Homo sapiens: one gene and its partner. The protein of the gene in region 2 interacts with the protein of the main gene of each other region in a pairwise test. Each region holds a gene or a part of one and is shown on either strand. Other genes may lie near its edges. The genes, in order: AANAT and EIF4E3.

Region 1 (16,929 bases), on a different chromosome or scaffold from region 2:
TCCTGGTGTCACTGCTGGCCTTTGCCGGCCTCTTCGCCGCCCTCGTGCTGTGGCTGTACATCTACCCCATTAACTGGCCCTGGATCGAGCACCTCACCTGCTTCCCCTTCACCAGCCGCTTCTGCGAGAAGTATGAGCTGGACCAGGTGCTGCACTGACCGCTGGGCCACACGGCTGCCCCTCAGCCCTGCTGGAACAGGGTCTGCCTGCGAGGGCTGCCCTCTGCAGAGCGCTCTCTGTGTGCCAGAGAGCCAGAGACCCAAGACAGGGCCCGGGCTCTGGACCTGGGTGCCCCCCTGCCAGGCGAGGCTGACTCCGCGTGAGATGGTTGGTTAAGGCGGGGTTTTTCTGGGGCGTGAGGCCTGTGAGATCCTGACCCAAGCTCAGGCACACCCAAGGCACCTGCCTCTCTGAGTCTTGGGTCTCAGTTCCTAATATCCCGCTCCTTGCTGAGACCATCTCCTGGGGCAGGGTCCTTTTCTTCCCAGGTCCTCAGCGCTGCCTCTGCTGGTGCCTTCTCCCCCACTACTACTGGAGCGTGCCCTTGCTGGGGACGTGGCTGTGCCCTCAGTTGCCCCCAGGGCTGGGTGCCCACCATGCCCCTTCCTCTTTCTCCTCCTACCTCTGCCCTGTGAGCCCATCCATAAGGCTCTCAGATGGGACATTGTGGGAAAGGCTTTGGCCATGGTCTGGGGGCAGAGAACAAGGGGGGAGACACAAGTAGACCTCAGGTAGAACGACACTGGGCGGAGCCACCCCAGGGCCTGCTCCCAGGGAGTGCTCGAGGCGCATCAGGCCCGTTTTTTACCAGTTTATATCACGGTCTTCATTTTTAAAAGTAACGCTAACTTTGTACGGACGATGTCTCATGGATTAAATAATATTCTTTATGGCAGTACATTGTCTTTAACGGAGACCTCAGGTAGCATGAAACTGGGATTTGGGGGTGAGGTGAGGGGTCAGCCATCAGCTGCTCAGAGACAGCAGTTTGGCCCGGTGGACAGCAGAAAACTTGTGGAGCATCTTGGGGAATTAGTTGGGCCAGAAAGCAGATTGGGGTCACGTGGGAGACCCCAGGGGTCCACTTGGGAGGGCTGGGTTGAATCCTTAGGGCCCTGGGGTTCCCACCCCTACCTGTTCTGCCTTGGCTCCAGAGCAGGGAAGGGGCTGCCTGGGCCCAGGGTGGCCTGCCCTGATGGGGATGGCACTGAGGGGACCTGTCACCCCACCCGGGGACGAGTCCACTCCCTGTGCCAGTGCCTCACCCACCACACTGAGGATGGCCAGTGAGGCACCGGGTATGACCACTTGATTACCATGGGCAGAGGGCCCTGCACCAGCTTCCCTGCCCCAAGCTGCCTCTACAGCACAGGCCTCCCGCCTCTGCCCCATCCTGCTGCTCCCCACTCTCCCCCACCCTAGGGGCTAAGGGTGGGAAGCGGCATCCATGAGGCTGGGGAGAATAAGGACACCCCCCCCCCCCACCGAGCAATGGGCTACTGTGAGGATGCCGCCTTGGTGCCTTTGCCCACCTGCCAGGAGGAAAGGAGCCAGGAACCCCACAGCACCTCCCATTGTCCCCGCTTACCAACCCAGCCCGGTCTCAGGTACAGAGTTCAGAACACAGGAGGTCCAGAGGCCTCGTGGGGACAGACAAGACACACCACTCCAGCTCAGGCCGTGAGAAGCCACCTTATCTCCTCTTTATTTAGCCCTGCTCTCTCCACTCTCTGGAAACTGCTGTCTCCATGCTCAGCTGAGCTAAGAGGAGCCCAGGGCAGAGACGGGGATCATGTTGGCAGCCAGGTGGGCAGCCCAGTTCAGCAGCCGCTGTTCCTGCGCAGGAAGGGGTGGCCCCGCAGGGAGCAGTGGAGCTCCATGAAGGTGAGGGAGCCCACGGTGATGGCGCAGGGGCCCACGGCGTGGAAGCTGAACCTCTCATAGAAGGGTACCAGCGCGTCCTCGCACATGAGCGCGGCCCGGCGCACGGCCGGCTGGCTGCCCAGGTGGTGCAGGTAGCGCCACAGCAGGATGGGGCCCCTGCCCTGCTGCCGGAAGGCGCGGTGCACGGCCAGCACATGCAGGTGGGCTATGTGGCCCCCAGACCTGTGCAGCGTCAGTGACTCCTGGGAGCGAGCAAGGGATGAGATCCCAGGTCACTTCTGCTGACACGTGCTCCCCCCCAACCACCAACCCAGGCAGGGAGCAGGTGTCCCCTGGGTGCCTGTGGTCAGGGCACCCACCCCAGCAAAGGAGGGCCCCAAATTGGGAGCCATACCCCCAACCCCATGGAGAAAACTTGAAGACCCAGAAGGTCTTGCTCTGGGAGGGGCCTGTGGCCTGTACTCATCTCTCCAGTTCTGGAGGAAGAAATCCCAGCCCCTGGGCTCCCCTCCCCGCCATCTGGCTGACCTCTGTCTTCAGAGGCCTCCCTGGAGCTGGGCGTCGCAGCCCTGTCCTCACCTGCATGAGTCTCTCCTTGTCCCAGAGCGAGCCGATGATGAAGGCCACAAGGCAGCCCTCCTCGAACCAGCCCAGGGACAGCTCTGGACATAGGGTCAGGAAGTGCCGGATCTCATCCAGGTACAGGGGGCAGACGCCCAAGACGGAGATGAAGGCTGTGGCAGGAGGCTCAGGTGGGTGACTGGTAGTCGCTGTGCCTCGCGTCCACTGTCTGCTGCACCCCGAGTGTCCACTCAGATGCCCCGTTCCCCACAGGAAAATGGGGGTTAGGGCTGCTGTTTCCCCCACTTTCTTGAGCGCACACATGGTCTGATACTCTGGGACCCAGCCTCCAAGGACAGGAGACTAAGGGTCTCCTCCCCACAGGATAACTGGACCAGAGTGGAGCATCCCTCTGACCCTGTGCGGGGCCACTCACCTTCACGCTCGATCTCAAAGGCGCTGACAGCGTCCTCCGGGGTGAGGCAGCGAAACTCACTGGCAGGGAGTGTGTGGCGCCGCTGACAGCTCGGGGACTCGGGGATCCCAGGTGGCAGACGTGGGGCCTCAGGTTTCAGGGGGTGGGTGCTCTGCGTGGACATTCTGGCCACTGGTGCCTCCTTGGGGCGCCCCAGCTTTGGAAGTGTCCTCCTAAGCCAAGGAGGGCCTCCCAGCACCTGTTGGAGAACAGCAAGGGACAGGGGTCTCATCCTCATCTCCAGGGAGGCAGGCCCCAGAGTATGTATCTGGCCTCTTTTGTAGCAGGAACTGGGGTGGAGACAGCCCCTAAATCAATGGGCACATTCCCCAGGTACCTGGTCCCCGAGGCTGTTACCAGGCATTGCAAACATTGGCACTGTCTCCCCACCTTTCCCTCTCAGCCAGAAGGATCCCTGGAGGTTTGCCACCTTGCAGACCTGCAGACATTGGTCTCAGGGTGCCGTCTGGGTGCTTCTGAGCCCCAGAGATGGTGGCAGGGATGAGCAGGGCTCAGTGGAGCCTGGGGCACCCCAACCCTGCTGCCCACGGTGGGAGGGGAGGCAGGACTCGTGACCCTCCACTGACCACGTCTAATGCAACTGTGCAGTGGGTGGGCGCCCGGTTCCCCCACACCACCATTCATGTGGTTTATCTTACCTCCCCAGAGGGAGGCTTCTGGTCCTTTGGGTGCAAGATCCTGTGGCAGAGAGCTTTTTAGGTAGCCTCAGCCCTTGGTCCTAGAGAGCCCCTTAATCAAAGTGGGCCCTTAGGGAGCCTCTACTTCTATCCAGATGGCCTCAGACTGGGCCACACACATGCAGGATTTGTGGTGGGGGGTGGGGAGGTTAGAGGGAGCCGGGGGCTGCAGAGGGCCTGGGGAATGGGGAGGAGCAGGCAAGGAGAGTGCATAGGACACCCCCTGCCCCACACATCCAGCTCATCAGACATTCCCCTCTGGGCACTCTTGTCTCCCAAGACACCCTGCAGATTTGCAGTTCTTAGAGGAGGCCATCCCTCCCTCCACCTTCCAAGACACTTAATAAACTCCATGGCTTCCATGTTTCCCTCCATGTCTAGAAGCTCCAAGTAGAGAAGCTCCTGTTCCTAAAGGCTGAGAGCCAGGAGTGGGGGTCCCACCTACCTGGACTGTGGAGAGGATACCCAGTGTTCCCTCCACAAAGCCGCTAGCCCTGGGGGCCTGTCCGCAGGCACGGGAACCAGTAAAATCCGGGACTCCGGGCTGCAAGGCTGTAGTAGCAGATGTTCCCCGGGCAGCCTGTGGTGCTGTTAGAGGTTTGTAATCCCCCCACCCCACCTCTCGAGCTATCCCAGGCAGGATGACGCCAGCAGGGCTCTGGCAGCCTCGGCCCCTGCCTTGCTGAAGGGAAACGTCAGCTCTGGTGCCCTGGGCACAGAAGGGATTACCAGAGGCTGACTGAGGCCCCAGGGTTTGGGGAAGAGAGCGTGGGGCTAAGCCTCAGGGGTCCATCTCTAATCCCTGCTCTGTCACCGACTGGCTGGGCACCAGCGATTCTCCCTCTGTCCCTCGGAGTCTTGGACAAGCCCACCTCTTATGTGGGGGGAGGGGGTGGGAATTCAAGCTACCAATTTGTGCACTTTAAGTACGTTCTACTTCAAGTTTATTTAAATATTTAATTTAATTAAATATTTAAATATTCAGGAGGTTGCCCTACCAAACATCTCAACTACAAAGCTCTCTGCTATTGACCTTGGCTCCACCCATTCCCAGGGCTGCCCAGGCCTTGGCACTTGGTGCTGGCATTCCCTCGGGATGCAGGCCCCTCTCCCTGTTGGCTCTGACTACCCCCTGCCCTCCAGCTCACACCCCATCCTGCACCCCTTAGCTCTTCTCTCGCCAGCACCTGCCTCTCCGCCCCACCCAGCAGTGCAGATCCTGTGTCCATCTCGGGCTCCTGGGGGTCCTGGAGGTTGGATTTCACAGGTGCACTCTTTTGACCCCCTGCAGAGGAAGCTTCTGCTCCTACCCACACAGCTTGGGACGGACCTCTGAGGGTCCTTCCTGTCCTGGCAGCCTGTGAGTGCCACTGCTTACAGCACTTGCTATGTGCCGGGCCCTGGATACGCGTCTCCTTTAATCCACACGGAAGCCCGGCCAAATGAGTATTAACCACGTTATAGAGAAGGAAACCGAGGCACAGACAGGTTCAGTAACCTGCTCAGAGCCATCCAACAAGTGAAGGGGGAGGGGCAAAGCCGGGTCAGCCTCCTGACATGCACTGCCACGGCTGCACTGGTGGGACCCACTCATCTCACAATGAGACTCCTGTTTCCTGTCTTCATGATTCTCCTGCTGGTTTTCAGTGTCCTCACAGGTGCACTCTTTCGACCCCCCCGCAGAGGAAGCTCCTGTTCCTACCCATACGGTTTGGGACACAGCCCCTGACCGTGGAGTGACCCCGTCCCGATGCCCCCGCCCACCCACCACATGCATTCCTCCTGTCTCTGGGTCCCCTTCTCCCAGGGCCCCTCTGCACTCTGAGGCCCACCTGCCTGCTAGAAGGGACCCTCAACAGACCTCTCAGGACCGACCAGAGACCTCCTTGGGCTTGGTTGGTGGGGTGGTCATGTCCAAGACCTCAGCTGGGCATCCCCACCTTCAACCTCCAGGGTCCCCCAAAAGGCCTCTTCTGTCCCTTCATAGACTGTGGCTCCATGGCACCCCCTGGTGGCCAATCCTAATCAGTCACTTGGCGATGCCTGAGAAGAGCCTGCTGTTCAATCGGCCTCTCTCTTTGCTGACTTCCACATGGCCCTGTTCTTTCCGGACAACACCCTAGAGGTCTAGAACCTCAGGGAACAAGATGAGGCAGTAAGCCAGGCACAGTGGCTCACCGCTGTAATCCCAGCACTTTGGGAGACAGAGACGGGAGGATGGCTTGAGCCGGAGAGGTCGAGGCTGTAGTGACTCGCCACTGCACTCCAGCCTGGGCGACAGAGCGAGACCCTGTCTCAAAAAAATACAAATAAAAATAAATTTTTTTTAAAGATGAGGCGGTATGTTAAACATGGTGAAACTGGGAAGTTCAAACCCTTGTGGGACAGGAGAGGAGACAGGGGAGGGCAGGGTGATCGCTGGGACCTTTGTCCTGGTCAACAGGAAGAAAACCACATACCACCACCAATGAGAAGGAAAATAAGGAGGGTGAGGGGCCCAACAGGGTGATGGGTACAGAGAGAAGGAGATCCCTGGGGCTGGGCATAGTGGCTCACACCTGTAATCCCAGCACTTTGGGAGGCCAAGGCAGGAGGATCACTTGAGCCCAGGAGTTTGAGACCAGCCTGGGCAACATAGCAAGACCCCTGTCTCTACAAAAAATTTAAAAATCAGCCAAGCATGGTGGCACACACCTGTAGCCCCAGCTACTTGGGAGGCTGAGGTGGGAAGATCACTTGAGCCTAGGTGGTTCAGGCTGCAGTGATGAGCCACTGCACTCCAGCCTGGGTAACTGAGCAAGATGTTGTCTCAAAAAAAAAAAAAAAAATCCTGACCTCAGGTGGGCTCTAAAAAAGAAGCACCTCCGAGATCATCCTCACGCCAGGGACACCGATTGCACTGTTTATCAGATGCCCAGTCTTGTCCTGCTATTGCAGTTAAGAGTGCTGGCAACGCCTCTGGTGACTGCCTCTCAGGTGGATCTTGGGGATGGGGGGGAGAATGTGTCCTTTGCCCCCCAAGTCGTACCTGTTCAGTCACTCTAGACAGCTGATAAACACCTAACCTGATGGGCAAGGCCGGGCACGGTGGCTCATGCCTGTAATCCCAGCACTTTGGGAGGCTGAGGCGGGTGGATCACCTGAGGTCAAGAGTTCGAGACCAGCCTGGCCAATATGGTGAAACTCCGTCTCTACTAAAAATACAAAAAATCAGCCAGGTGTGGTGGTGGGCGCTTGTAATCCCAGCCACTTGGGAGGCTGAGGCAGGAGAATTGCTTGAACCCAGGAAGCAGAGGTTGCAGTGAGCCAAGATCGTGCCATTGTACTCCAGCCTGGGCAAAAAGAGTGAAACTGCTATCTCAAAAAAAAAAAATATATAGATACAGACAGGGAGAAGCTGGCATCTGTATGTTTCCCAGGGGTGCTGTAACAGATGATACACAAACTGGATGACTGTAAACCACAGAAATGGCTTGACGTCGTGGCTCATGCCTGTAATCCCAGCACTTTGGGAGGCCGAGGCTCTTTGTTCCCAGCCTCTCCCTCCAGCAGCAGCTCCCTTGAAAGTCCTGTATCCACAACTCACCCACCGCGACTCCCTGCCCAGTGTGTACCATGCCACCCTGCCTCACCCATGATGGCTCCCCTCAGGGGTCCCCCTGTCTCTCCACCCAGCCTGGCCTCTTTCGATCTCCCAGACAGATTTACACATTTCAAATGCCAGATGGGGTTCAGTTTTCTCCCAAAAGGCTCTTCGGTCCCATGAAAATCATGGTCTGTGACTGGGCTTCCACTTCAAGACTCCAGAATATTCTTTTTTTTTTTTTTTTTAAGACAGAGTCTTGCTCTGTGGCCCAGGCTGGAGTGCAATGGCACAATCTCGGCTCACTGCAACCTCCGCCTCCCAGGTTCAAGCAATTCTCCTGCCTTAGCCTCCCAAGTAGCTGGGATTACGGGCGCACACCACCATGCCTGGCTAATTTTTTTTATTTTTCCTAGAGATGGGCTTTCGCCATATTGGTCAGGCTGGTCTCAAACTCCTGAACTCAGGTGATCCACCTGCCTCAGCCTCCTAAAGTGTTGGGATTACAGGCGTGAGCCACCGCACCCAGGCAGGACTCCAGAATATTCTATAGCAGTTTGGAGAGGGGTTGTCCAGGGCACACAGAGAACTGCCAGGGACCATGCTACCTAACTCCCCACCTGCCCTGGTAGAGCCTCACCTCTGACCCATCAGAGCCCCCATCCCACTCCTAATCAGATGTGGTGAGGATGATGACGACAGTTATTGAGCGGATAACTGATATCATGACAGTAAAAAAGGTTCTGAGAGGATGTGTATCACCACACGAAAGCTGAGAACCAAGCTTTTGGGATGTCCACTGTTAGCAGGGAAAGGAGTTATTAACAGGAACACAGGTGAAGCCACAAGAAGGGAAGAACCCAGGGGAGAATGTCCAAGAAATGGGGCAGATAGAGCCTGAAATGCCACAAAGAATGGAGAACAGATCTCAGATTCTGCCAACAGGGAGGCTCCGATGACCTTTAAGAATCCTTCCAGAAAAGGCCGGGCACGGTGGCTCACACCTGTAATCCCAGCACTTTAGGAGGCTGAGGTGGGTGGATAGCTCGAGGTCAGGAGTTCAATAGCAGTCTGGCTAACATGGTGAAACCCCGTCTCTACTAAAAATACAAAAATGATCTGGGCGTGGTGGTGGGTGCCTGTAATCCCAGCTACTCGGGAGGCTGAGGCAGGAGAATTGCTGGAACCCAGGAGGCAGAGGTTGCAGTGAGCCAAGATTGCACCACTGCACTCCAACTTGGGCCACAGAGCAAGACTGTATCTCAAAAAAAAAAAAAAAAGGAATCCTTCCAGAAGGGAGAAATGGGTGGAGAGGCCAGATGCAGAGGAATGGCCTTAATGGTGACAGTGAGAGGTGGAGTGCAGAGGCCGTTGATTAAAGGCACACTGACTCGCTGCCACGGCCGGGGGTTGGAGAAAACCTCCCCACGGCCCCCACCCCATCCCGGGCACCGAGCCTGCTGCAGCTGCTGATACCCCCGGAGAGCCTGGTGCAGGGGCAGTGAGCATCCCCACCGGGCCCAGTGCAGAAGCCCTGGACCTGGAATCTGGGAGCTTCCCGCATGGAGACACACCCCCTCCCCTCCGTGTGTCAGCTGCCCAGTTTCACACCCAGACTGAAGGGAGCCCATTTGGGGCAGACCAAGGAGTGGGCCCCATGGCCATGTCCCAGGGACACCTTGACGATGCCTCTGAGATACCGGTTTTCCATGCAGAGCAGTTGAGAGGCCCGGCGTGCAGGAAGCATAGCCCTCTCTTCAGGCTCTTGTGCAATGGCTGCATTTTTTTGGTGGTTTCGATGGTCACTTTCTCTCTCAACTCCTCCCCTGCACTAAAGGTCTGCCCCACAGACCTGGCACTGAGCACATCTCGCGTTATCGTCTTTACCTTTCCAGCCTGAGTACTACCACGTGGCAGGCTCCCCGGGGGATGAGAGATGGAGAACTGTGTGCGGCAAGTTTATTGGGGAGAGGTCTCATGAGCGACCCCTACCATGGAGCAGGGCAGAGGGCTGGACAGTGGAAGCTGAGCCGTGATGGTGCAGCTGTAACCGAGGCCTTGGCGCATCCCCCGAGGAGCTTCAGACTTGGGAAGCCCTTCTGGACCCACCTCTTTGTCCTGCATCAACCTTGGGTGGAACAGCTTGCTTCATTGAGGGCAGTTGCAGGAAAATCCAGCTGGGAGCCGTCAGCAGTCCTGCCCACTGCGGGTAAGAGCCCTGAATCACTTTCTCCAAGCTTCCAAGTACCAGGGTCCTTGCCAGGGTGATAAATTCTGTAACAGGGAAAAGAGCTCCCATACCAACACACGTTCCTTATCCAACTTTATGCTCTGATCCCCTTGGCCCAGCCAGCATCCTCTGATTCCAGTCCCCACTCTCCTGGCTCTGGCTGGGACCTGCAGCTCCTTCAGGACAGAGCCTCCTTCCTCCCTTAGCCGACCCAGCACTTCACCAGTAGGTGAGGTTGCGATTTAGCCCTAGTTACTGGCCCAGTGCAAGAAGAGGAGGTGCAGTATATACTCAGGGTTGGGAAGGGGGTAGTACATGTCTCCTAAGGAAGAGGCATTGTCCCCAAGGAAGGAGGGGCACTAACCTCTGTCCCTGGATGGCTCCCGCTTCTCCCCAGGGGCCTCCTCTGTATCGCTGACTCATTAAGGTTGGGAATTCAACCTGCTCTCAGGCTCTGCCATGCTGACTTCTCTCTGTTCCTTAACTTCAGGAGGCGAGTTTCTTTACATGCTGCCAAGGAGGCCCTCTGGCTTTTCCACTTTGCCTTCAAGCAGTGATTCTTCACCCCCAGCCTCTGACTGCCTTTCTCCTCTGCACTGACTGCCCCAACAGCCATCCAGCCCCCCAGTCCTTACACTTACTCCATCCCTGTACCTCTCAGACACCTGAGATGTTGCACCCACCACTGACTGATTGATTGATTGATTGATTTCTTCCTTCCTTCCTTCCTTTTTTTTTTTTTTTTTTTTTTTTTGGTGGAGGCTCACTCTGTCACCCAGGCTGGAGTGCAGTGGCACAATCTCAGTTCACCAACCTCCACTTCCCAGGTTCAAGTAATTCTCCTGCCTCAGCCTCCCAAGTAGCTGGGATTACAGGTGCCCACCACCATACCCAGCAAATTTTGCATTTTTAATAGAGACGGGGTTTCACCATGTTGGCCAGGCTTTGTGCCCCTTACAGACAGTCAGTGGTTGGGGGAGGCATCTTCTTTTAGCCAAGGGCAGTGTTTGGAGAGGGATGTGATGGGGAGGTGCACCACAGCATCCACTACACACCTGTCCCCCCAAGAGGCTTATGCACTCCTGGAAAACAGAGGCTGGGTTGAGAATGTGGCATCGTGCCACCCACAGAGCAGGTGCCTATCAGCTAGAGGCACAGTCTTCTGTTTTTTTGTTTTTGTTTTTGTTTTTTTTTTAAGATGGAATCTCACTCTGTCGCCCAGGCTGGAGTGCAGTGGCGCGATTTCGGCTCACTGAAACCCCCGCCTCCCGGGTTCAAGCAATTCTCCTGCCTCAGCCTCCTGAGTAGCTGGGATTACAGGCACATGCCACCACGCCTGGCTATTTTTTGTATTTTTAGTAGAGACGGGGTTTCACCATGTTGGCCAGGCCAGTCTCAAACTCCTGACCTCAAACAATCTGCCCCCCTCAGCCTCCCAAATTGCTGGGATTATAGGCATGAGCCACCACGCCCGGCCCAGAGTCTTCCGTTGAGGTGGGTGACTCAAAGGCAGGGCTGAGTGGGACCCTGCCTTATTTGGGGCTCAATATCGCCGTATTAGATAGGCACTTACCTCAGGAACCTTCCAGACCATTCTGGAATGGAAGCATCCAAGGCAGGGAGGGATTGCCACCTCCTGGACAAAGAAGGGACCTACGGCTCCCCAAGTAATGGAGCCAAACTGCCCAATAGTAAGATTGTGTGAGCCCCACATGTGATTTTAAATGTTCTAGTAGCCACATTTTAAAAAGCCAAAAGAGGCTGGGCACGGTGGCTCATGCCTATAATCCTGGCACTTTGGGAGGCCAAGGCAGGAGGATCGCTTGAGCCCAAGGAGTTCAAGACCAGTCCGGCCAATATAGTGAGACCTTCTCTCTATTATTTTTTTTAATAAAAAAATAAAAAACAGGCCAAGCTTGGTGGCTCATGCCTGTAATCCCAGCACTTTGGGAGGCCGAGGCAGGTGGATCACCTGAGGTCAGGAGTTTGAGACCAGCCTGGCCAACATGGCAAAACCCCATCTCTACTAAAAATACAAAAAAATTACCCAGGTGTGGTGGTGGGGCATTTGTAATCCCAGCTACTCAGAAGGCTGAGGCACAAGAATGTCTTGAACCCGGGATGCGGAGGTTGCAGTGAGTCGAGGTCCTGCCAGGACACTCCAGCCTGAGCAACAGAGAGAGACTCTGTCTCAAAAAAAAAAAAAAAAAAAAAAAAAAAAAAAAAAAATTTCCTGAAGTAGGTGACTGAGGCTGGAGCACAGAGCACTCCATGCTGGATGCAGAGGGGGAAGGGGGGTTGGAAGGATCAGATCAGTTTATGAAAGGCCACATGCACCTTCTTGGGTGGACCCTGGGGAGCCACAGAAAGATATAAAGCCAAGAGTCCAATGACCGTGCTTGCATTTTCAGTCACCCTGGGAACAAGGCAGCAGACAGATTAGACGGCCTGGGGCCTGGTGAGGGGCCTACAGCCGAGGTCTAGGCAAGAGATGGAAATGAATTCCTAAGAAAAGCTAATGTTATCAGGCCTGCCATCATGCACTCACTGGGCAAAGCACGTTATATTCAGTTGGTCAGTTACAGTCTCCACAGTCCTATGAAGTAGGTATTATTATTATTCCCACCTTACAGAAAGGAAACTGAGGCTTAGAGAGTAAAATAACTTGCCCAAGGTCACATAGTGACCAGCAGCAGCACAAGCTTCAAACCCAGGTCCCTGTGACTCCGGAAGCTCACTCTCAGCCACTGTACCTCCCACCTCCCCACATCTCCATGGATCTGCCCCCCTGGTGGGGCAGCTCTGGACAGGAAGGGTGTGAAAAGGCAGTGAGGGGCCAAGACCCAGGCTTTGATTGCATGTAGAGCTTAAGAGTGAGGGCTGACCCTCAGGTGGCCAGCTCAGTACCCAGGTAAGTGATACTGCCATCCATCAGGATGAGAACTCTGGGAGAAGAAACTATTTGAGGAAAAGATGATGAGTCTACTTTGTACCTATGGCTGGTCACATCCAGGAAGCACCCACGAGTCTGGAGCTGTGGGAGGTGGCAGTGGATAGGCTGACATATTGTTCTTGAAGCTGGTCCAGCAGATTCACTGTGCCTCACCCTGTATCTTCAGGAAGGAGGGAAACAGGACGAACCTGGTGATCCTATGCTGTCACTATTGCTCAAACTTTTCACTGTTGCCCCAGCATAAAGTGTTTTGCCCAGTGGATTGCAACCCACCCTCACAGCAGGAGTCAGAATGGCCAAGGGCCAGCTGGGCTGGGTCCTGATCCTGACTGTACTGCAGAGTGACCTTGGGCAAGTCCCACAGTTTTCCCAGGGCACCTGTGCAAGGAGCAGGTGAGGCTCCAGGAATGAGAAGGGCCGTTTTAACTCCAAAAGCCTTGAGCGGCATTCAGCTGGAGCCTCGGAGGCATTTCTTCAGCCAGCCACATGAGGGTGTGGGGGGTTTCCCAAGGCAGCTCACCTCCCACCCCACCCCCCAGCTGAAGTCCCCAGTGCCTAAGGCACCCTAGCCTTCCCAAACACCTGCTCCAGGGTGGAAGGAGCTCTTTGGGCCAGGCTGAAATCGCTTGCACAGCAATGGAGAGGCCAAGCAGGCTCCCGCAGAGGGCAGTGTTGGGCCTGAGCATACTTTGTGGGTCCAGAGAGGTGCTCCAGTGGCTGGTTAAGATAGGGACGAGACAGGGCCTGCTTCCCTGAGACCAGTTCACTCTGCTGCTGGCTCTGCCGCCTCCTGCACACCACCCACCCCACTTAGCAAGGGGAGAGGCCAGACCAGCTCAGTTTCTGGAAGCACATTTATAAATAAGTGAAATCCTCCCAAGAAATAGCTCTATTCCCCACGAAAGGCTGGGAGATGGGGCCATGATAAGAGAGGGTTTCTTCATTAGGGAATCAAGTTTTTTTCCTCCTTCCTACACCTCAACAATGACAAAAATAAAAACTAAGCAGCGGCTTCCATCCACACTTACCCTGCTAGCCAGCCTGAGTGTATGGAGACCGTGGCTGGGGGCTCAGGGTCTGGGAAGGAGTCAAGCCTCAAACCTTATCCAGAGCATCTTGGGTCTGAGTGAGGTCCATAAAAGACACCATCGGATGGGTAGGAATTTACTGAGTCTCATTCTCTAAAGCAGCTCAGATGCAGTTGAAACTGGGGGCACTTGAAAGGATTTGGAGCAGCCAAAGAGGGCAGCTCTGTCCCAGCTTCTTCAACTTTTGGTTGTTGGAAAAAGGATAGGAAACTGACAGAATGGAGGTACAGGTTCTCAGGCCTTTGATATCCGCTAACATGATAATTTTCTTTTTTTCTTTTTCAAGACGGAGTCTTGCTCTATCTCCCAGGCTGAAGTGCAGTGGCACAATCTCAGCTCACTGCAGCCTCCGCCTCCCGGGTTCAAGTGATTCTCCAGCCTCAGCCTCCTGAGTAGCTGGGATTTCAGGCGCCCGCCACCAAGCCTGGCTAATTTTTGTATATTTAGTAGAGATATGGTTTTGCCATGTTGGCCAGGTCTCAAGCTCCTGACCTCAGGTGATCCACCCACCTTGGCCTCCCAAAATGCTGGGATTACAGGCGTGAGCCACTGTATGGGCCTAGCCTAATACGACACATTATTGAGCTCCATCCCTATGCCAGGTACTGTCCTAGGCACCAGGGTTACACACACAAATACAACATGGTCCACATGCTTAAGGGTTTAGTCTAGTGAGGGAGAGATCAGCATGTAAAATCAAGGAGTCTTACCTCCAACCTGGCAGTATCCTGATAATCTATGTAAAGCACTTAGTAGAGTATCTGGCATGAAGTTACAGCTCAATAAGTGATAGCTATTATTAGCCATTATTACAAGAAGCCGCAGAATAAACACAACACGTCTTCCAGGAGTGCCGATATTACTCAATGATTAGGGAGGAAAGGGCATTAGTTTTTACATTAAAACAACAAACATAGGCATACTCTGGAGTACAATGCAAAACTCACTTGATTTTTTGACAACAAAAGCAGATTTGAGGCCGGGTGCGGTGGCTTATGCCTGTAATCCCAACACTTTGGGAGGGCAAGGCGGGTGGATCATTTGAGGTCAGGAGTTCGAGACCAGCCTGGCCAACATGGTAAACCCCGTCTCTACTAAAAATACAAAAATTAGCCAGCCGTGGTGGTGGGCGCCTGTAATCCCAGCTACTCAGGAGGCTGAGGCAGGAGAATCGCTGGAACCTGGGAGACGGAGGTTGCAGTGAGTCAAGATCACGCTACTGCACTCCAGCATGGGCGACAGAGTGAGACCCTGCCATGAAACAAAAAGCAGATTTGAGGTCTGCACTGCCTTATCCCGCCGTGGGACACATAGACACATGGACTCCCCTGTGCAATCAGGAGTTCTTCTGAGGGAAGCCTAAAGAAATAGCATAACTACAAAAGCCCCTGCCCTTAGAGTGGGGAAACTCCTCAGGTTACTACCTGTTACCTTAGGCGCCAAATTCCTTGGGCCCTATTTCTTCATTGGTAAAATGAGGTTAAAAACTCTCTATATCCAAGATTGTGATAACAGACAAGATAATGTGCTTGGAAGTACCTGGTACAATGCCTGGTCAATAATATGTGCTTAATAAATGCTATGTTATCAGGGGGCAAGAAAACAGGGCTGAAAGGGTCATGGGAGGCAGAACAGAAGCTACTATGTTACTGCTGTTTAATCTCCCAGGTCTCTACAGGAGAGGGAGTAGGGACCTGCGTCCTTACAGCAGTGATTCCAGATGGTCATTTGGCATTGTGTTCTGGGATGGGAAGGCCATGGTTTGAGAACCCAGCCTTGCCCCAAAATCATATCCTAACTCCCCCTTCAGCTGATTCAGCCCATTTGTTCTATATCTTAGTAGATAAATTTTCTAAGATTTGGGTCCATTGACAACCACCCTGATCCCAATATTACATCAATACTCTATTAGTACTTGGCCTAAGACATCTTAAGTACTTAGGCTGCCATCTGTTTTGTGCATGTTCTTTTTTTTTTTTTTTTTCCTGAGATGGAGTTTTGCTCTTGTTGCCCATGCTGGAGTTCAATGGCTCGATCTTGGCTCACCACAACCTCCACCTCCCGGGTTCAAGTGATTCTCCTGCCTCAGCCTCCTGAGTAGCTGGGATTACAGGCATGGGCTACCATGCCTGGCTAATTTTGTATTTTTAGTAGAGATGGGGTTTCTCCATGTTGGTTAGGCTGGTCTTGAACTCCTCACCTCAAGTGATCCGCCTGCCTCAGCCTCCCAAAGTGCTGGGATTACAGGCGTGAGCCACCGTGCCCGACCTTGTGCATGTTCTTTTAACTTTTCTCTCTCTTTTTTTGAGACGCAGTCTCGCTCTGTCGCCCAGGCTGGAGTGCAGTGATGTGTTCTTGGCTCACTGTAACCTCCTGCTCCCGGGTTCAAGCGATTCTCCTGCATCAGCCTCCCGAGTAGCTGGGACTACAAGCATGCGCCACTACACCTGGCTAATTTTGTGTTTTTAGCAGAGACGGGGTTTCACCATGTTGGCCAGGGTGCTCTTGAACTCCTGACTTCAAATGATCCATCTGCCTTGGCCTCCCAAAGTGCTGGGATTACAGATGTGAGCCACCACACCCAACCAACTTTTCTATGAACATAGTTCTGTATCTTCAGGATCCTGTAAACAACACAAAGAGCTGGGATTCTGCCTTCTTTGAAGAACCTAAATACTGTAATATCCAACTTACTAGTCTTTCGTTGATGATCGTGTAGAAAAATGTGGAAAAAATGATGTTGACTGAGAAAGGTTAGGGCCAGATCTTGTTTTCCTTAACAATCCATTTAAATCTGTCCTCTGAGAATGTATCTAAACCCTTTGAAACTTAGGTGACACATTAAATTAGAGTTAGTTTTTTTCTTTTGAGATAGAGTCTCACTCTGTCACCCAAGCTGGAGTGCAGTGGTGTGATCTAGGCTCACTGCAACCTCCAACCCCCAGGTTCAAGTGGTTCTCGTGTCTCAGCCTCCCAAGTAGCTGGAATTACAGGCGCCTGCCACCTTGCCCAGCTAATTTTGGATTTTTAGTAGACATGGGGTTTTGCCATGTTGGCCAGGCTAGTTTTGAACTCCTGACCTCAACTGATCCACCCACCTTGGCATCCCAAAGTGTTGGGATTTCAGGCGCAGTCAAAGTGTTGGGATTTCAGGCGTGAGCCACTGTGCCCGGCCTAGAGTTACTTTTTTTTGAGACGGAATCTCACTCTGTCGCCCAGGCTGGAGTGCAGCGGCGCGATCTAGGCTCACTACAACCTCCACTCCCCAGGTTCAAGTGATTCTCCTGCCTCAGCCTTCCGAGTAGCTGGGATTACAGGCGGCTGCCACCGCGCCCGGCTAATTTTTGTATTTTTAGTAGAGACAGGGTTTCACCATCTTGGCCAGGCTGGTCTTGAACTCCTGACCTCGGGTCTCCCACCCGCCTCGGTCTCCCAAAGTGCTGGGATTACAGGCAAG
Region 2 (15,270 bases):
TCATTCCCTACTCTCCGGGCGGCGGGGCGGCTGCGTGGAAGCAGATCCCACAAACTTACAAAATAAGATCCCACGGTATATAGATTTGTGCATGCTGCCCACATATTAAAGGAAACACTCATCAGGGCCTTCTTTTAAAAATTGTGCTATAAAGGTATAAACCCTCCATTTTTTTTTTTGGAAGCCTTTTTGGGAAGGACATGAAGCACCCCCAGAACAGTCAGGGGACCATATTTTGTGCAACAGCAATTCTTCTAAATATAGACCATAGAGCAATCACAAGAAGGATGCAAGCGATGTCCTTGGATGCTCCGCAGAACAGGAGGATGACAAAGCTGCTAAGAGGGTTTTGCATTGAAATCCTGCGCTCCCCGATTTAGCAGAAGGCTTATTTCGCCCTCTCACATGAGTGGGCTGCCGGAGTGGCCCCAGAGCAGTTGCATTTTGAAGCCATTACTTTACCTTGTCCTAGTCCTGCCTTAACAGGTACATAAATTCCCTGGACTTGGGGAGTTTCATTTTTAACCCAGCAGAAGTAAGTTTACTTAACCAAACGTGGGCTCTCTCTAACATTTGCCAGATATCACCGGGCGATTTTTTTTAACCTCATCTTCACAGCAGAAACATAAAAGGCGAGATCTATAAACATTTCAGATTCATAATATACTACTTCCTCTAGGTTCTTCTAAGTGGAAACTTTGCTCTTGAGAAAAGGTGAGCATCTACTAAAAAGTAATTTTCTCTTGTCAGGAGGGCTCGCCATGCACTTGGTTGCAGCTGAAATGTGTTTTAATAAGGCCTTTCTCCTTTACAAGCCCGGCTTGCTTTTAGTTCCATCCCACAGCCTGAGCAGGGAGGAAGATGGCTCTCAGATATCCTTTTGTTACCCTAATCAGAGCCAGAAGGGCTGTATTGACTTTCAGGCCTTGGGGAGTTGTAGTTCTTTTGTATCCATCTCATCCAAGAAATCAAGTTTGATTAATTTGTCATCAAGTAAAACGTGTGATCTGCTCGGAGCCCGGCCTTTGAAGTGGAAGGATGAACTTGGGCTGCAAAGTCCAGGTCAGCGGGCGAAACAGCAGTGGTGCCGAATCGAACAAGTTCTTCTCCGCAGAGCTGCCTGTTCTCATTTAAAACATCTTTTTTCTTTTTTTTTTTAAACCTTTTCCACACACGTCTTCTGGGTTGGACTGCTCCCTGGCTGGGGCCCTCTTTTGTTTACTTTAATTTAAAAAATAGAGTTATCAGGGCTACAAAGCAAGTAAGACCCAGAAAACATTTAGCCACTCCACAAGGCATGGGGGTGGAAGGATTTGACCTCTCTACAATCTTAAAAGACCACTGTGAGTGAGAGAGCCACGAGGGCTGAACCCGGTGTCAGCACGTGCTTCTGGAATGAATAATCGGAAGGGGTCTCCAGCTGGGTCATGGGACAGATGCTCATTTATGATGCTCTGGGCTTGTTGACCTGCACTTAGTGGAGTTCCCAAACTGCTGAAAATGCATAAGGTAGTGGCCGCAAGATATTATTTAATCCTAGACTTAGTGTCATATTTCTTGTTCAGATGCTATATATGCTTTATAAAGAGTTACAGGGCTTTTAAAAATTACAGAGTAAGCAATCTTTATACATTCCACAGTATAAGGATCCCCATATTTCACATGCTGGTGCACAGGCCTTTTGATGACTGCTACCCCTCAGGTATATACATGAAGACACAGTGAATTATTGGCCAGGAGTCAAGGGCTTGTTTGGCTTTCAAAGATGTTTAAAAAGCACCAACAAATTATAAACAGCCTCTGTGGTTACTGAATTCAGTGTCTAAGCTATTATTATTATTGGAGAATTTGAAAACAATAATGAGATTAGTAAAAAAACACTCAGCTTTAGAAATCTAAGGGGTTTTTGACTTAAAAAAAAAAACACCGCTTATGACAACATTCAAACATTCCTTCATTCAAACATGCATTGCATTCATACTTACATGCCAGGTATGTGCAACTCAAAAATGTCTAAGATACACTTCCTGCATTTCTTATAGTCTAGTAGTTCAGTTTTAATATTTACCAATCCACTAAATTGTCAGCTCCATGAAATAGGAATGATGTCATGTCTTGTTTTTGTATCCCCAGTGCCTAACACATCATAGCTGTTCAAGAAATATTTGTTGAATTAATGAGTCAATATTGTATATGGTCTATATCTCAGCAATACTAAGGCCTATTAACTTTCCTTTAAGGTAGCCAGGATTAAAATAATAATATAATAATTATATATATATATATATATATAAAAAACATAATATGCACATCATACAGGGAACTCTTGGGAGCTTCTCACAATTGTCCCCTCAGTGACAAGTTTGAGTGTCTGCAATCCAAGATGGACAATAGGAGACTTATGCTTCAGTGAGAATTTGTTCAGCCTCTAAAACATTTTCATCAACTGTACTTTTTTTTTTTTTTTTTTTTTTTTTTTTTTTTTTGAGACAGCGCCTCGCTGTGTCGCCCAGGCTGGAGTGCAGTGGCATAATCCCAGCTGACTGCAACCTCTGCCTCCTAGGTTCAAGTGATTCTTATGCCTCGGCCTCCTGAGTAGCTGGAATTACAGTCGTGCACCACCATGCCCAACTAATTTTTGTATTTTTAGTATTGATGGGGTTTCACCATGTTGGCCGGGCTGGTCTTGAACTCCCAGCCTCAGGTGATCCACCCAGCTCAGCCTCCCAAAGTGCTGAGATTACAGGCATGAGCCACTGCGCCCGACCCTGAACTTCCTTCTTATGTTATGATGGCAATAATGCTCTTAGAAAATAATTGGAAAGTTCATTTCGGTTTTAAGTTGGTTTGTGGCAAATCAACGCAGAAGTCAAGTGCACAGAACTCAAGTAAATGGGGATGATTTGTTTTTTCCCAATATGGTACAATAAGGTAGAAAGATCATAAACAAGCAGTTAGAAGACTAATGGGTTTGGCCACAGTGTTGCCACCTCAACACTGTTTGTTGTAGGACCTCAAACAAGTTAAGCTGGGCCAATACCTGAGGAGGAAAGTGGGAAAGTTTCCTTGAAGCAGTTCATTCTCTTCACTGTATGGATGAATTGATACAGCCAACCAATGGAAGTACCATTTACTAACTCTTTACCACATCCAAAGGGCTGAGCTGGGTGCTTCATATGTTACTGGCTTTGAAGAAGCTCTACCTTGCCCTTCTAAAAAGGAGGAAACTGGGGCTCAGATATGTTGAGGGACTTGCTCAAGGCACAAGCGAATAGAATTTCAACCCAATAAAGCAAATTCCAAACTAAGCTCTTTGCATTGCGTCAGTTTGCTTTCTTTCTGATTGTTCATATTCAAGGCTAAATTGGGCATCCCGGACAAGTTCAAATCCAGAGAGAATCCTACGGTCTCCCTGTACTCTTAAGTGGCAAAACCACCAAACCTTTTACCAGAACACCTAACATTCTGGTCAAGAAACCAAATTCCATCTTCTCTGCTCTTCTCCTTTCCAATCCCTGGTAGAAGCATTTGCAAACACAAATAGTTAAAGGTCACCAGTAAGAAGTAGAAGAGGGATTTTGCATGATCCATCTGTGCTGGGATAATCCGGAATTGGCCGTGAATATGTTGAAGGGCCTACACGCTACATCAGTAATTCTTTTTCACCTGCCATCCACACCAGCAAATGTGTTATTCTTGTACATTCTTTGGAGAAGAGTGTTAGGCATGTGTGTCTGCAGATTGGGCACTCAATAAGTGAGACAGAAAAGCAAGCTTCAGATATAAATTTTTTAATTCCCAGTTAAAACCTTGAGAAAATAAGCAAGTAGATGGTGTGTCCTAGCTATAAACTGGTTTTAAGACAAATCTGCTTACATGGAGTTGTCGCAAAGAAGCAGGTTAGAAAACATGCATTTTTTCCACATAATATATGGAATGAAGAAAAGATCATTGATTTTAACAGCCAGGAGATTTGGGATATAGCTGCAACTTTGCCACCAACTACTTGTGTGACCTTGAACGAATTCTTTATACTTTCTGGGTCATTTCTTCATCTGTAAAATGAAAAGTTTGAACTAGGCCAGTGATTTTTCCATCTTTTTCTTAAAGCTGTAAAACCTTTTCTTTGTAAACAAACTCTCATAAGGAATCTCAAAATTCTTGCACATCATATCTTCAACTTCCACCAAGGCAGCCTCACTGAAGAACAGGCTGGAGCCACAGTACCTTAGATGTATCTTGGTTCTGCAACTGACTACTGGTGTGACCTTCGGCAAGTTATTTCACCTCTCTGAACCTCATGCATATGTTTCCACATACACAAACTGGGGACAACAATGACAGCATCTACCTCGTAGAGTGTTGGGGAGAACTAACCTCTATGCTTAGATGGCATGGAACTCCATACATGCTATTGTTATTGTGGATATTATAGCTATGGACAGAGCCACACACTACAGCAAAAGCACATTAAATTCTGCCCAGTTACTAACTTACGGGGGTATCAATTGCTTATAGTGTGTCATTTTGCACTCATCATTTAAAAGACTTACAAATAAGTTTTCTGAACCAACGTTCATAGTTAGAGAAGATTCTATATGTAAAATGATGTTTATCACCTGTGATAAAACCAGAGAGAAATGCAAGTGTCTCCTGTAGGTCAGGATAATGGTTATTTTAGTGGAGAGGGCGGGGACACAAGAAAGGGCTCCTGGGGTGACCGGCAAAGTTCTATTTCTTGGCCTGCTGTTATAGAGTGTTCTCCTTGTAACAATTCAGTAAGTTACACATTTGTTTTGTGTGGTTTTCTGTACCTTTATTTTACAATAAAAAGGTTTTATAAAACCTTTGTTTCATTTCATAAAACAAAATCAGTGAGTACATAAGTTATACTTACTGGCTTCCAAAATGTTAAAATTTGGCCATGTGATGCATGTCACTGTGTGTTATTGCTTTATTACACTTTTAAAAATACTTCTTAAAATGTATTTTACAATGAAAACTTTGCCATATCTGAAAGTGTTTCTGTGGAACCACCCTTCTAGGGAACACTCTTTGAAAGCTGATGGACCTCTGTTAAAATGTGGATTCCAAGATGTTTGTTTTCAAAAAAAAAAAAAAATTCTGAAAAACAGTCTTGTCCTTTATAACTTGACTATCTTCATGAAACACTAATTATTTTCGCCTTAAAAAGGGGACACGGCTTTAGTGTTTAACCTTCACTTCCATCATTCTTTTCCAGTAAGCATGAATCACAAAACTCAAATGTTTCCTAAGATCTGAAACCTTTCTCTAGGTCCATACTTTATATAATCCTATATGTGCAAAAAACAAATGATTTAAGTTTCCTGAGTTAAAGAGGAAATTGGGGAGTAAGAGCTTGTCCACATCTTTAATGCTTAGAGGAGCACACACATTTAGCCCTGCCATCTGTACAAATGGTACCAGAGTTCAACATGCTTACGATTATAAAGAATTTATGATTTATGCTTGCTAGTTAAATATGCTTATGATTTAAACTTATTTTCTCTGGCAAGAAATAAGCTAGTCAGCACCACAGCCTAGCCAGATGATGGGAAATAGAAACATATTTTAATGACATATATTTTAACTTGCTGGCCCTTGCAAATGCTACTGTTTTTTCTTTTCTTCATGTAACAAAAGAACCATCGTCTTGTAGGATTCCAGAGATTTTTTTATGCATTCATTAACGAAAAGCAGTTAAAAGTTCTTTAATAGCAGTTACTGCAGCGAAAGGATCACTGAGGAAGAAAAGGCATGCATGGTCTTGGCTTCCAAGAAAACTGTACGTTAGGTGACAAGGCAGAGGAACCTATGCTAATAGAACAACCGAGAACACATTCCAAAAAGTGCATCAATAACGACTAGATGATAAAGTACACACAGAATGCATGGTGGCAGTAATCAGATGCAAATATGAGAGGGAAACATTATGAAATTTTAAAGCCTTCCTAGTGTTATGCCCTGCTCTTCAACGATTTCATTAAATTCGCTGTGTTAAAATTAATTAGGCATCACACATAAGATCCTGAATTGCTTGTTTCTGCAGGGAGAGATAGGAAAGTCTGCAGATGAATGGAAGAAGAGTTTGTTGGTACGTTTTGTTTGTTTTTAAAGGAATATATTAGACAGCCAGAAAGGAGGAGTAAATTCACTTTACTTGCCGAAACAGGGGACAACTGAATCTCACCAGCAAATTGCAGCACAAAAGAGCAACGAGAGTAATTGACTTATTCTAAAACGGAACCATTCTTAATAGAGGGTAAAGAAAAAGAATTAAAATAAGCAAGATACGTTTTCTAAGAGACCCAGATGAGCCCTATTATCAAATGTGTTCAACAGGGAAGTGTAAAAATAACAACAGTTACTCCCCATCAGAATACCAGATAACCTACTAAGCGTCAGACTCCATGCTAGCAGCGTCACACATATTAGAGGTGTTGGACAGAAACTTTTAATATGTGTTGTAATAAACAAGGTTATTCTAATCACCACACACACACTGGAAATCTAATAATGATTAAGTGATGTGGTTGATTAAACTGCATGAAATTTTTAAACTGGAGGATGAAAATGACATTTCTATACTATAAGAACCTCAATACAGAATGAGAATTAGTAGCAACAGATTACAAAAGATCTCAAAATAAAGTTCTACAAACTAACACTTAAACAAACCCTGTGAACTACTACCCTGAAAAATGAAGAAGCACAAATTCATAGCAATATAGTCCCAAATTAGAAAATTGCAAAACAGTCTAAACATTTGCACTAAACACATAAATCACTACCTTTTCAAGTAAGAAAAGTATAGTCTAGTCTTACCTTATTGCTGCAAAAGGCTGGAATAAAAAATACTGACTTATAGAAGCAACTTTCACATGTATCTGAACATCAAACACAACACACAATATAAAATCAAAAATAACTAGAACAGAAAAGTTTTCAGTCTGACCTTAAAAATACTGAGCAAATCACTAGATGAAGCCAGATCAAAAGGAAGGGCATTACACCAGCTTGTAGCCAGATGTGAAAGGGTCCCCAACTGCACAGGGCACAGATGGTATAAAATAGGGGGGTGGGGGCACAAGCAGATCCAAAACATAATCAAACAAACCTGGTTCAACTTACACAGGTAAGACTATTCTAAAGAATTAATAACTTTCAATGTAAGATTTTAAATTTGGGACAAATAATGTTAGCTGTCTCAAGCTAAAGTATGCTCACTAGTTTAAATTTTGAAATTCTTTTATATAATCATTGAAATAAATTCTCCATGAGAATATATTCAAAGTCATGGTGACTTGTTTTAAATGAATACTGAAAAGACAGTGTTAAAACTTAAAAACAAAAACAATGGTTGTAAGCCACATTATCTGATTAAAGTCTGAGAACTTTGGGGAGAATTTAATGTATATCCACAGCATCAATACCTCTATTTGAAAACAGAAACACTGTAAGTTTATTAAAATGTTCAAAGTCCTTTAATATTCACCATTCATCATGTAATGTAAAGTGCTAAAATTAAAATTTTCACCCTAAGCCTTCATTAAAAGTTGCTTATTTGTATGTGAAAAGATGAGAGGTAGCATAAATTTTCTATAGAAAACTCAGAAACACTCAATTTACTTCATGTTCAGTTCTATAATGCAAAGTTGACACTTTAATAGATCCGAAATAAACATCTGTTCCAAAATAAAAGTTCAAGAAAAATTATCTGACTTCGATATTAGAAATTGAAATTTTCATAAAGAAATCTTGCATTTCACTAAATGAGTTGGTAACTTTTTTCAGGCAGCAACCAAAACAAAAACATTTAACACAGATTCCTTCAATCTCATGATTTCTGAAGGACACAAAAGCATAGAATATCCAAAAGCTATTGTATTGGATATTCTAATAAGGTACACTCAAGACACACATATACAATGGAACTCTGAATTTCAGTAGCAATGATGAACAAAAAAATACTGACTTTGCAATGACTTTTGCTTATCACTCACATCGTTTAGGGAATACTTATTTGATTTTTTTGACATTTCTATGTATTAAAGGATCTCTCCAGTTTAGTAACAGCTTTGCTAAGCTACGTTTTGAAAGTGACAATTAATTTTAGTGGAAATTCATTCCCAGGCTACTTTGATAGTCATTTGAACAGTTTTGTGTTATTTTACATGCAATTTTATAGCTCTATAACGTTCATTTAATCTTGTTCAATGATGCTGAACCCCAGATGCCATAAGACATTATAGAAAAGTAGTTACTGCACATATGGAGTAACTACTTTTCTGAACACTAATTTCTTTTCTCTTAACAGACTGAAATGGTATTTAGAAAAGAGAAAAACCACCACTCTGTATTAAAGGCTTTATATTATGGACTTCCAGGGATGGGCTCCCATGACTGCTGTGGTCCCAGCCATAAAGTTCTTATTCACGAGCATCATCTACTCAAGTCTCAGTATTAATGGTTTTCTCCAGCCTTCATAAGATTGTTGGTATCATACATTGGAATCAGGTCACCTGACAGAGCTTAGGGTTGGGAGGCTTTCCTCATTTGTCATATGTGGGAGTTGGATAAAATCAGGGGTTCTCCAAGAGCGATCTGAGCACCATCAGCATTAGAATCACTAGGGCACTTGTTAAAAATGCAGATATCCTCCCAGATTTCTAGTGCTGGGGTCAAGAAATGTGAATAATAAGTAAGTATCTGAGTGATTTTGCTGCATGCTAAGGGGTGAGAAGCACTGGTAGATGATCTCAAAGGTCCCTTCCACTCTAAAATTCTAAGAGTCCCTGAATGTTCTTTTAAAAATGGATTTATGTCAGCAACATGAAAGAATTTCTAGAACACAAGACAGTGACTTTTGGCCTGAGTGGGCCAATCTGAATAAGTATTCTTAGATTTGGATGTATATGTAAAAATAATAGAAAATAAAATCAGAACAGTATAATCTGACATGAAAGGAATCTATTTGGGATTTCTTCTTGGGAGAAGTAGAGGGGCAACCCACTCTAATTGCTATAAATGACCACAGGTTCAAAGGGACTTTTCGTTGCCTCTCAGTCCCTATTTTTTCCCACTTCACCCTCTGACTCCTCCCAGCTGTTGAGATCCAGGCTTTTTACAATCCTGAGTCACCAAACTCTTGAGTAATTTTAACTGATCTCAATATATTCTTTTCAGAAGTGAACAATTCACAGGCAGTCCTCTACTTTCACTTGTAATGAGTAAAATCTCACAGAAACATACAATGTAGGAAAGGTGAAGGGTAGAATTACATTTTTAAAAGGAAGTTCCATATTCAGAGTGCTAAAAAAAATCAACTCCTAATTTTCTCTCTTTGGGCATAATATTTGATGAAATATTTTCCATATCTCCTATATGTGAGTTTATTTTATTCTTTTTCTTCCCAATCACTTATAAGGCCAATGAGAGCCTAGGATTTGAGATATTTTAAGCACATCTGGAGCGATCTAGCTTTGACACATTTTTATTAGGTGCATGAAAACTAAATGTCTTATTGCCAAGTATCATTTTTACATTTTCTCGTCAAATTTTTATAAAAGCTTAAGAGCAAAATGCAGTAGGATCTTAAAAAAATTCTACAAACATAGCTGGATAAATTCTGCTGCTGAGCCAGAACTGTTGGCTGGAAGGCAGCGCCACCATGCGATCGTTCCAAAGGCTGTCAGTTTTGTCTAAAGACACAAGCTGGGATCCTCTAAGAGTTGGGCAACTAATAGCAAAAGCCCACTTCCTGTCATAGGAAGGTTATTTTCAAACTCCAAACCCCAGCACCACTTCTGTCTCTGAGAGGGAGAGGGAGAGAAGGAGGAGCTGTTTACAAACAGGATGTCTGATTACGGAGTTACACCAGTGGCCAGATTGGATCAGATATTTAATGCTTGATTAGGGTGGCTAGTGGGCAGGTTAAGGCTGGCAGATTCTGAGTACTCTCCATTTAAGGACGCCTGCACCGGGATACAACTTGCCGACTTCAATACCCAGCTCTGTGGCTGGCTAGCCCTACGTCTTTAACAAGGGACAAGTTCGGCCAAGGCTCAGTTGGTGGATTGTATATTATGTCTATAGGACCCAATTATACCTAAAGTTTCTAAGCTATAAAGTCTTGTGACTGTGTGCATGGTGTAGACATGGGCTAAACTCAAGAAGAGGGGTGAGAAAGAGTCATCTTAATCTTTAATTTAAAGTTTATTAGAGTTGTGGTTTCCTTTTCATGTTTTTGCTTCATAAAGTGTACCACGAATCTAACAGCAATATTATATTAAATGTACATGTTTGCAGTAAATTACACCCTCATTTAAGAAATGTGGAAAAGTTGGGGGGAAAGAGGAAATCTTAAAACTGAGTTAAGTCAGCAGTTCAGCAAGTGCTTACGAAAGACAGTCAAAATATAGGCAAGTTACTTTAAATGGGTATTATTTGTCCTTACTTTCCCAATGTAGGCAAGTGCCTGTGATATAACAATTTAGGGAATAATGGGAGAATAAAAAGCATATTAGTTTCAATCAGATTTCCTGGCATATATCACAGACCCTAAGGAATTACAAAGACAAAAAAGCAAGCTCTTTGGTTTCTGCATGGTTCTTTGCAGACTACAAGGCTGCCCCTGCAAGCACTTGGATGAAAAGACCGGGATTCTACTGGAAGTTTGCACTTTCCCCACATCAGCCAAGATGGGTAAACTGCCTTAACACAAAAGTCACATGCCCCACAAAATATTTCCTTCTATCTCAAAACAGTATTAGCTTCTTTAATCTAAGAAGGTAATGAGAGGTTTTTAAACTGATTAAATCAGCTTAGTTCATACAAAGTCTATTATGATTAAATATTCAATTAAAACAATTTCCAAACCAAAATCTGACAAAATCCTCTCTGAAAGTAATTTAGATGATAGGTTTTTAACATTAGGCAAATTAAATCCTTCTCACAGTTGGTATTTTCTAAAGGGTCAGAAACAGTTGCAGAAGTTCACTGGGGCAAAAATCTACTTTGTGTGCTAGTCATGTTCCATGATCATAAACAGAAACTAGAAATATTAACGTGAGCCTAACATTCCTATTTATTTTTACTTCAAAGGCTACATACATGCAAAAGTTGAACATGTCATCACAAATGCTTTAAATAAAGTTCAAAAAATAAAAATACTTCAAAATCCATTTACTTATGGAAATATACATGACAATTAGAGTGAAGTCAATTATATCCTTTTTTCAATCAGAAAAATACTTATATTATAAAAAAGTTTTAATTCATGTCCAGAATAATTTTTTAAAATTCTTGAGTCATAATTTTAAAACAAGTTGAATGTTAGTACAATGTTTGGAGAAACAAGTCCTAGGCTTTTGCTAACTGGATCTGATATTCTTATACTTCATTTTGAAATCACTAAGGAAACTCAAGTTTAGGGAAAAAAAAAAAGCATTTTAAGAAACCTATGATGGTAAGTATTATGGCTGAGGTGGTTACTAACCAAGTGAAGGGCACAACTTCCATAAGCAGATAATGTTCAAAGTCCTTTAAAATGTTTGAATGGAGAATTTTATCTACAAACACATAGTGGAGGCTTAAAGTAGCCTCAAGTCTCTCTGCTGGTCAACACTGCAAGAGGAATTAAAAATCCCAGGTACAGTGAAGTTCTGAGTGCACTGCCCTTTTGAAAAATGTGTGAGCAGGCACTAGCTCCCGTGACTCCAAAGCCGACTGGGGGAAGTGTCTTCAGATGGCCCTGCCCTTTATCAGGCAAAAGCAGCCAAAGGCTTGGCAAAGTCAGGAGAGGGAAATCAGCGTATTCTGAGCTAGTCTCCATGGTCCAGAGGATGACCATTTCCTTCTAATAAAACCAATATTTCTTTGGTAGCATAATACAATATATATCAACAATCCCAATAATTCATATGAGCAGAATGCACTCAAAGTTCAACTTTGTAAATGTTCACATGCATCCTGGAAATGAGATTTAACTTCCTGCACCTACATGAAAAAGGGTGGGGACAGCTGCCCAGGCTGGAGGACTACTGATGATGAGAAATGACACACAATGTGAGCAGGGAAAGGGATCATTTAACAAAATGTGTTAGCGTTGACTGGGAAAGAAAGCCCTAAGTGGGTAAACACACCCGAACTTTGCAAGGAGCTTAATTCAAACAATTAAAATATCACCTTCTCTTTAAATCAGAAACATCAGGTTTCCTATTGGAAGAAATCCCTTGCTACCACTCTAAGCCTTTGGTTGAAAAGGCCAAATTAAAATTCGGGTTAGAAATGTTTCCACAGAGGGTCCAAAGACTTAGAGCTTGATTTATATCCTGATACTGAATTGTGATTATAGTTTTCATGTTATGCAATCCAACTATTATTTTCCTTTTATCACTAAAAAAAAATGTTTTAAAAAGGAAAATTAAAGATTTGTGTGCTGTCAGTGCAAAATCACATTAAGTATGGTTTTTCTTTTCCCTGGGACAGAAAAAAACAATGCCCAGCTCACAGTACATAGGAATGTGTCACAACAAATAATCAGAAGACAGATTTCTCCAAGCTAGTGTTCCTCCTTGTACAGTGTGGTATTCAAAAGCAGTATTGTCACGATTATGCATATTCTCATTAACTAGGTACAGCAGAGCTACTTAAAGGGAAACCCATTTCTTGTGCCTCAATGAAAGGGGAGTGTAGAAAACAATAATTAGGCTGAATAAGGAATTTTAAACGGCAAAAAAAAAAAAAAATCAGAGTGAAAAGAACAGAGAATTTAGAAAGCCAAAAAAAAAGTTTTTTGTGTGTGTTTTTTTTAAAAAGCAAGTAATGTGACGGTAGAAACCCACACAATCTCCCCCCACCCCACCTGCCACTTTGAGTCCTAATTGCCCATCTGCAAGGACAGAAACCCACTCTAAATTGACCAGCATCGGCTTCGGCAAGTCTTCTCTTCACTCTCCCTCCTGTTAAGACCGTTTCCAAAACCAATCAGCAAAGGACAAAGAATTCTTTACAGAGTGCAATTAGTGTTTTCCACGTCCACCTTCAAAAGCATGATGCTCTTCATGGGCTAAAGGACAGAAAAAAAACAAAAAAGAAAAAAAGGAAAGAAAACTTTAAGCAAAGGATGGGCCAACCCTCCTCTAGGCATCTCATTCAGCTTCCCCAAATGTTGGCAAGAACTCAAACACCTTATTTATTTATTTATTTTTTTGCCAGTAACTGTTAGCTAAGGCGTGCATTTCCTGAGAAACGTAATAATGAAAATTAAAACAAGGAATAAACAAGCAATGGGCATGCTGCCTGTTTCTTCTTGCTGTGCCTGGGAGGATGAGTCATCTCAGCAAGCCGATGAAGAGAGTATGTTGGGCTGCAAGCAAATGCCGCAGGGGAAAATGTGCCCCACAAAATGCATTGCAGGGGGTGGGGAGAGGGGGTGCCTGACACAACCCAAGACAGAGCCGCTTACAAGCCTATCTTTAAAAATAAACTAAAAATAAAACAAAACAAAGAACCACACCAGGGTGACAGCAATTATATCTAGGTGCCCCTGCTCCCTACCTCTCAACACTCTCCATGGGAAATGAAGTTTCATAAAATTGCTAAGTTTTATTTTTCCAAATCAAGTTTCCCCCTGCCAATAGATATTCAGACCTATCATCTGGCTTGCAAAATTACTAATTTTAATTAGGAACTCTAGAATATATATATATTTTTTTGAGACGTAGTTTTGCTCTGTAGCCCAGGCTGGAGTGCAGTGGCGCAATCTTGGCTCACTGCAACCTCCTCTGCCTCCCAGGTTCAAGCAATTCTCCAGCCTCAGCCTCTGGAGTAGCTGGGATACAGGCGTGTGCCACCACGTCCAGCTAATTTTTGTATTTTTGGTAGAGATGGGGGTCTCACCATGTTGGACAGGCTGGTCTGGAACTCCTGACCTCAAGTGAACCACCTGCCTCAGCCTCCCAAAGTAGTGGGATTATAGGCGTGAGCCACCAGGCCCAGCCGGAACTCAGGAATTTAAAAAAATTATGCTACCAAAAATATTTTCAAACACTTAACGTTTTTTAAAGTAGAAGATGCCACAGGGAGACCTACGAAATACATAACATTTTCTCTAAGGCAAAAGACTGAGTGTGACAATCTACCTCCCGGATCTGGTTAACCATTACCAGGAAGCAACGTCTGATAAAGGTGGGGTGATTCAGGACTCTGGGTGCTTTGATCCCCAACACGCTACCCACACTTAGCAGTGAATGGGGTTCTAGGGAGGCAGATGGGCTGGCCCATTTCACCTTTTAAGCCCCTTCCAGTTCTGTTTTATTTTTCTTTTTGTTTTTTAAGACTGGGTCTTGCTGCTCTGTCACCCAGGTTGGAGTGCAGTAGCATCATGCTACTCGGCTCACTGCAGCCTTGACTTCCCGGGCTCAAGCAATCCTCTCACTTCAGTCTCCTGAGTAGCTGGGATTACAGGTATGTGCCACCATGCCCGGCTAACTTTTGTCTTTTTGATTGATAGAGACAGGGTTTTGCCATGTTGCCCAGGCTGGTCTCGAACTCCTGAGCTCAAGCGATCCACCGGCCTCAGACTCCCAAAGTGCTGGGATTACAGGCATGAACCACTGTACCTGGCCTCTGTGTTTTTCATAAGGACTAAATTCTTCAGACTATTGCTGAGGGGGTGGATGGAACGGGCCTATTTTCCCTTCAACATCATCTTGGACGTTCACCCCAACCTACTCCGCACTTGGATGAAACACTGGGAGAGATGCACTTTATACCTCCCAGGTCACCTCAGGTTGGCCATACTCCTAAGGGCAGCCTGAAATCTGAACTAATTTAATAGAACATTTCTCACAGCTTTAACTTTGCAAATATTTCACATTGAGTGTGTGTGTGTGTGTGTGTGTGTGTGTGTGTGTGTTTTCTTTTTAAGAAAGATATTTAGGGAAGATATCGAAGAAAACACGCTTTGATCTGCAAGGAAATTACACTATGCTTCAGGGTCAAGTAGAGGTACCATAGAACTACAGTGACCTGGTTTCCAAACAATAAATCCAGATATACAGACTATCCAAAGATCTGTGTTACTTCTAGGTGTGAGGGGCAGTCTGGGGTGGTCATAGTTGCAAACTACAATGTTGATGGGTTAAAGAGACAGTACAACAGAACATTCAGAATTGGGAGTGCCTAGTGAACAGGTGTACTGTCAGCCTTAGGTTACCTTGGGTAGAAAGGGATTATAGAATTGCT

Evidence for each region.
Region 1: the proteins of EIF4E3 (region 2) and AANAT interact in binary tests that used the Homo sapiens proteins (3 or more experiments, as listed by UniProt).

Annotation. Positions count from the first base shown.
Region 1 is NC_000017.11:76,454,862-76,471,790, reverse strand, and holds AANAT (serotonin N-acetyltransferase), read right to left. Parts: upstream 4,189-16,929; 5' UTR 4,064-4,188; intron 3,120-4,063; coding exon of another isoform or gene 3,045-3,119; coding exon 2,882-3,044; intron 2,675-2,881; exon of another isoform or gene 2,619-2,674; coding exon 2,464-2,618; intron 2,127-2,463; coding exon 1,821-2,126; 3' UTR 1,674-1,820; downstream 1-1,673. Other genes in the region: RHBDF2 (inactive rhomboid protein 2), read left to right, coding at 1-158. UniProt on the Homo sapiens protein: Controls the night/day rhythm of melatonin production in the pineal gland. Catalyzes the N-acetylation of serotonin into N-acetylserotonin, the penultimate step in the synthesis of melatonin.
Region 2 is NC_000003.12:71,671,639-71,686,908, forward strand, and holds the end of EIF4E3 (eukaryotic translation initiation factor 4E type 3), read right to left. Parts: intron 13,091-15,270; coding exon 13,044-13,090; 3' UTR 3,776-13,043; downstream 1-3,775. UniProt on the Homo sapiens protein: Recognizes and binds the 7-methylguanosine-containing mRNA cap during an early step in the initiation of protein synthesis. May act as an inhibitor of EIF4E1 activity.